2 separate regions of the Homo sapiens genome follow, and region 2 is linked to region 1. The links come from fine-mapping of genetic effects on gene expression. Tissue or cell type: cerebral cortex. Region 1 holds a variant in brackets; the other region holds the start of a gene. All regions are shown on one strand. Distances are between the middles of the regions.

The links. PIP is the estimated chance that this variant, and not a neighbour inherited with it, causes the effect.
Region 2: ANKRD34C-AS1 starts here. The variant in region 1 is fine-mapped to the expression of ANKRD34C-AS1 in cerebral cortex (GTEx, PIP 0.98). The same link has a PIP of 0.9 or more in cerebellum.

Annotation. Positions count from the first base shown.
Region 1 is chr15:79,210,044-79,212,755 of GRCh38, reverse strand. The region is part of intron 1 of ANKRD34C-AS1 (ANKRD34C antisense RNA 1); the gene reads left to right. Among named protein-coding and RNA genes, the nearest start is that of MIR184, 1.6 kb to the right of the region's middle. The variant G/T (reference allele first, on the strand shown) is at 1,154.
Region 2 is chr15:79,282,630-79,285,390 of GRCh38, reverse strand. ANKRD34C-AS1 (ANKRD34C antisense RNA 1) reads left to right here and starts at 1,446. Exons shown (of 2, transcript NR_038997.1): 1 at 1,446-1,742. ANKRD34C (ankyrin repeat domain 34C) reads right to left here and starts at 2,669. Exons shown (of 2, transcript NM_001146341.2): 1 at 2,163-2,669. RefSeq lists a silencer at 2,345-2,543 and an enhancer at 2,195-2,734.

The DNA.
Region 1 (2,712 bases):
ACGTAAGTGGGGAAACTGAGGCTGGGCCTAGCACCAGATCACTCATGTTGAAACCTAGGTTTGAACTGGGTCTCTGAATCCCCATCCAGAGCTCACTGCCTTAAGGCTGAGGTGCCTGTGAGTGTCTGAGGACCCTTACTATGAGACAGTGTTATCGCTGACTTACAGTCTGGGTAAAGAAGGTGAATGCAGTCAGAGGAGTAGATTCAGGTGTCAGACATTTGCATAAAATACCAATTGCTCCTCATGTTGGGGAGGTAATTCACAAGCTTGAATCTCTAAAAGGCTGCATCTGGTGGAGGGCGGGGCTATGTGTCTGTGCACGTCTGGTCTTTGGAGTTCTTATTCAGCAAATATTGATTGCAAGCCCACCATGTGCCAGGCATCATGCCTGGGGCTTGGGATCCAGAGATGAAGAGACAGTCAACCAAGTCCATCAGGCTCTGCCAACCCCTGTAGTGTGAGTGGTGGTTGGAGCACGTGTTATACCCCCAAAAGGTGGGCTTGGCCAAGCCCTTCCACTTACCAGCCATGTGTCCTTCTGGATGGCAGTTTCCTCATCTGCAAAATGTGTGTAGCCCTAAGACCTGTCACCCAGGACCATTTGGGAGGTCAGCTGTTGTTTTGCAGGTGAAAAGATCCATCTGGTCTCTGGGCCTGGCACTCTATCTATAAAATGAGGCTCTACTCCAGCATGTACCCACGGTGTGCTCTGGGTAGTAAACTGTGGTGGTTTAGCACTTTGCCTTTGGGTCTGACAGTCCTGGATTCAAATCCAGACTCTGCCCTCTACTGTGTAACCTGGTGCATGTCACTTAACCTCTGTGGAACCCAGTATTCTCAACTATTAAATGAGGATGATAATAGTAGTAATCATAGTAGTACCTAGCTCAGACTGTTGGTGTAAAAATTAAATGAGCTAATTAAAATTAAAAAGTAAAGTGTTTTGCACAGAGACACTCCTAGTAAGCCCTGAAGAAATGAGAGCTATGCTTTTGATTATTAATATTCTTATAATCCAAAGGATGATGCAGGATTTTTTAAATCTTTCCACATGTATGTTTTTGGACCAGTCCAAAAAAGAATTGGAAACACACTTATGCCGCATAAAGACAGAGTTATGAGGAACTATAAAAACAAAATAAAACCTTTG[G/T]AGAATCAACTGCAAAGACATGTATTCTGTTTTTATTATAGTTCTGAGCCCAACAGTGTCTCACCAGGTGACTACCTGAGATATCCAACATCATATGTCCACCAGAGGGTGGGGAACACTCAGCCCCTTTTTATCAACACCTTCACTGTCCAGCCAGCCCCTAACTGGCCCCTTTCTGTCTGAAGGAGGTGGCTGAGTCTCTGGGCCGGACTCTCCGCTCCTCCCAGCCGCCTCTGCCTATCCATCCCATGGCCACCTGAGCCGCTCTCCACACTCTTGAACCCAGAGCCAAGACACACAAGTGCTGAGTCTCATCAGTAACTGCAATCTCATGAAAGCACTCTTGGGCCTCAGTCACCTTGAAGAGCAGGAAAGGCTCTGAGGGGACATTCATTCCACCCATCATCTCAGGTTCCAGTTTGCTTTAAAGGAAACTGAGGCATCGTAAAAGTTAAAGACATGTGGAGGATCATACCAGAAGTTGAGAGCCCAGCCAATCTAAGTGCTGGGACTTTCACAGTTGTCAGGGGGCATTACAGCTGTATATTCAAAGCCTCAACTGTATCTTGCAATCACCTGGCACAGCTACAGTGCCCAGGCCACACCCTGGACCAATTAAATCAGAATCTCTGGGAATGAGATCCAGGCATCAGTATCAGATAGCCAAGCTTATATACTCCTGCATTAAAGTGAGAAGGCCCCCATGTGAACACTAAATGCCTTAATTCACATTATTTTTGCACGGTTCTCAAACCTACTCTTGCCCAGCCACATCCTGAAGATTCTGATGTAATTTGCCATGCATCAGGACCCTTCAAAACTCCCAGGTGACTCCAACAAGCAGCTAAGGCTGAGAACCACTGTGTTCATCTACCACCTTCATTTAACTTTAAAACTGTATTTACTCTTTAAGTAAAATCATAATATTTAATTGCAGAAAAGAAAAGAAAAAAGTACCTGTTCAGCTGAGATGCAATCCATTGCATGTTAATCTGTATTCACATTCCAGGAAATAGAAGCATTTGTAGTTACAGGAATTTTTATCTGTGGTTTTACATCTTTACACACAGGTGTATAGACTTGCTTATGTGTCAGTCCGTTACTGCAATGTGCCAATTAAGACATTTATTGAGTTTGATTTGGTATAAGTAATTATGAGTTATAAAAGATCATTCTGAATCAACAACGTAATAAATAACCATCTTTAATGTAATAGAATATAAGTTTAGTTAGAGTCATGAAACCTTCTGTCTCAGCACATGGTTCCTATAAACCGAAAAAGACAAAAGCATTTGGTGAGTAGCTGTCAGCTGAAGAAAATGTCTGGAAAGGGACTTTCCCTCAAATCAGACGGAAATTCCTGCTCTCCCTTTTTTTTTTTTTAAGCAAGAGTACCTAAAATTCCAAAAAGTCCTATACCCCTTTATTCACCTTATAAAGAAGTCTGTGGAATAAGCCCCCTTCCCTCACCAACCACCCAACCGCTTTTCTCAAGGGGAGACCCTAAACCCAGTCGCAGAGAGCACATTTTGAATAAGCAAAGTGGAGATCTCACTGAC
Region 2 (2,761 bases), 73 kb before region 1:
CCCTTCTTCAAGTCACACTGACATTGGATTTCCAGTTAAACATCCCTTGTTTGGCACAGTGAAGATCTCACAGAGGGCAAGGGATGGAATTATACAAAAGAGAAGAGTCTACGGACTTTTGCAAACATTTTCAAAGTTCCTAGACCTCCAAGAAAGTGCTTGGTTATACACTTTCTAGTACTTAGAGACCAGAGCAAGTTTCTAGGACTTTATAATATACATACTTTGTATTCATTTTATCTGTGGCTATAGCCTTAATCTTGTTTCACCTCTGTTTTCTCGACTACTTCGAATACGTGCAAACCTGACATCTTGTGGAGCCTTCTAAATTGCTTTAAATTCTTTGTGGAACAAAATAGAATATAATCAATAAACATTTATGAGATTAATCCATATGAAACTGCTGTTTCAAAATGGTTTTAAAAACCATTAATGTCACATATTTATAGTACTTGTCTAAATACACTTTAGTGCTTAACTGCCCCATAATTCAAGCTCCTGAGGATGTGCCAGTCCATGTGGAAGGATTATAAGCTAGAGAGGCGGGAGATCTGGATTCTAATCCCAGCTCTGCTACTAAGTACCTGAGTAATTTTGGGCAAGCATCATTTTGCCAAACAAGTAGAATAACCCCAGTCCTGCCTACTTAACAACATTGTTATAAGGATCAAATGGTAGGCAATATGTCCACACTCTCTATAAAGTCCTGTTAAAAAATCTAAGAGGCTATTACACACTGAACTAAGCTCATCCAGAATTCCTCCCACTGAGCCCCGCTCTGTGCCCAGTCCCTTTGGAGTGTGCTGAGGGAAGTGTTCACCACCAATTCTCCTTCTCTTCTAATTACCTGCTCCTTCCTTTCAGCCCCTAACACCCAACCACAATTCCCAGTTTGCCAGTCTTTCCACACATATGATCTCCTTGGCCACCCTCCCCTGACACTTTTGCAAGGAAAGCATTATCAAGTATTTACAGATAGTTAAAATCTGAAGTTCAGACACATTTAGTAATTTTGTCTAAGGGCACACGTTTTTAAGTGCTACAGCTTTGATTTAAACTCTGTTCCTCTGATCCCAAGTTCAGAGCTATTTCACGCAGGGAATTCCACTCAAGCACATCCTCCCACCACTGCAATCTGGCAGCGTTTAAGAGCGCAGCCATACCATTTGCTAGTTCCATAAACCTGGACAAGTTACTCGGCCTCTCTTGCTTCAGTTTTCTCATCTGTAAAATGGGGATACTCATAGGACACAAATTTGTGGTGCACTGGCTTAGCACGGGGCCTTGGCACATGGTAAGCGCTTAATAAATGCTAGATTTTTAAAGAAGTTTGGGTACACCTTCCGAAATCCGGGGAGGCCACACAGTTTGCCTGTAGTTTTCGCGGAAGCTTGGGAGATATCTTTACACTCCGCCTCTTCCTTCTGCAGTCACGGGAAGCAGTTAGAAGCAGATCAGAAATCGAACACGTTTGCTTTTGCGATTCGAGAGCCCTTTCTGGCGCGGAGCTAGGGGCGGTGTTACGTAGCTGCCCTGAACTGAGAGCAGCGTTGGCCGGGGGCTAGGGAGCCGGGCTGTTCCACGCTCACTGTGCGCCTCGGGCGGCGGGGCTCGGGCTCTGTCCGAGGTGCTGAACTCCGGGGCTCCGGCCGCGCCGGCAGAGTGTGCCAGCGTCCATTATTGCCAGTGTCTGTGGGCATCTTCCAGAAGGCCGAGCATGGGGGTCAGGTGAAACCAGGGCGGTAAGTGCTTCTCCCATCATTTCTCAGAAATGCTTAGGTGCCTACTTTTTACAATTTCGTGCACATTTTCAGGATCATAACCTCTCACCGCCAGTTCCTCACAGGTTTCTGCAAAAACTGACGACCTTTCTTCCCCTTCAGTCCCTGCAAAAATCCAGACACCTATCACCCAGCCCCGCTCCGCAACCATTTCCTACAAGAATCCAGGCCCCTACGCATCTCATCCCCACGCGTCAATGCAAAAATAAAAAATGTTAAATCCGCCTTCCATTCCCGTCTCCCACAATTTCCTGTGATAAAAGCAAGCTGTCTCCTACCAGTTCCCCACTCCTGCCTGTGGCTAAACAGCATGGACCGACTTCTCGGGAGCTCGAGGTCCCCACCCGGGTGACCAATGCAGACCCCTGGGGGTGCGCTTACCTGGTGGGGACAATCGCCGAGCGAGGCCACCTGGGTCCAGGCTATAGGTAGTGTCATTATTATTCCCAAAACAAAATCAGGGGGCGTCCAGCACCCCTACCTGCAGCTGCGGGTTGGCTGCCAGAGGGCACTGCCAGACTGAACCAGCGCCGGGAGCTGGGGCTACCCCGGGCCCCGCGGGTCCTGTTGAGTCACTTGCCCAGAACTTCTTCAAGGTTCGTGAATAAAACCTCTGCGTCAGTTCCTTCAAATCGGTCCACCGCTCCTCCAAGTTGCGGTGGGAGCAGGGGAGTTTTGGGTTTGGTTTGGTTTGGTTTGGTTTTAAGAAAAAGAAAGAAGCATGAAAGAAAGATAGGAATCGCCCCCGGTTCCGCGCTGCGGGTGTGCAGGTCTCTGCGCAGCCCCAGACCTCCGGCTTGGTCTTCGGCCGGCTGTGCTGGCTGACGACGCGCTGCTGCCCGCTGGCGCCGAGAGCAGCTCTCCAGCCGCGACGGGCGAGGGTTGTGTGGGTGTGCGAGCTGCGAGGAAGGAGGAAGGAGGGGGCCGCGGGGGTGGGGAAGTGCCTACCTGCAGCCTCGGCAGAGGCGCCTGCTGCCCCA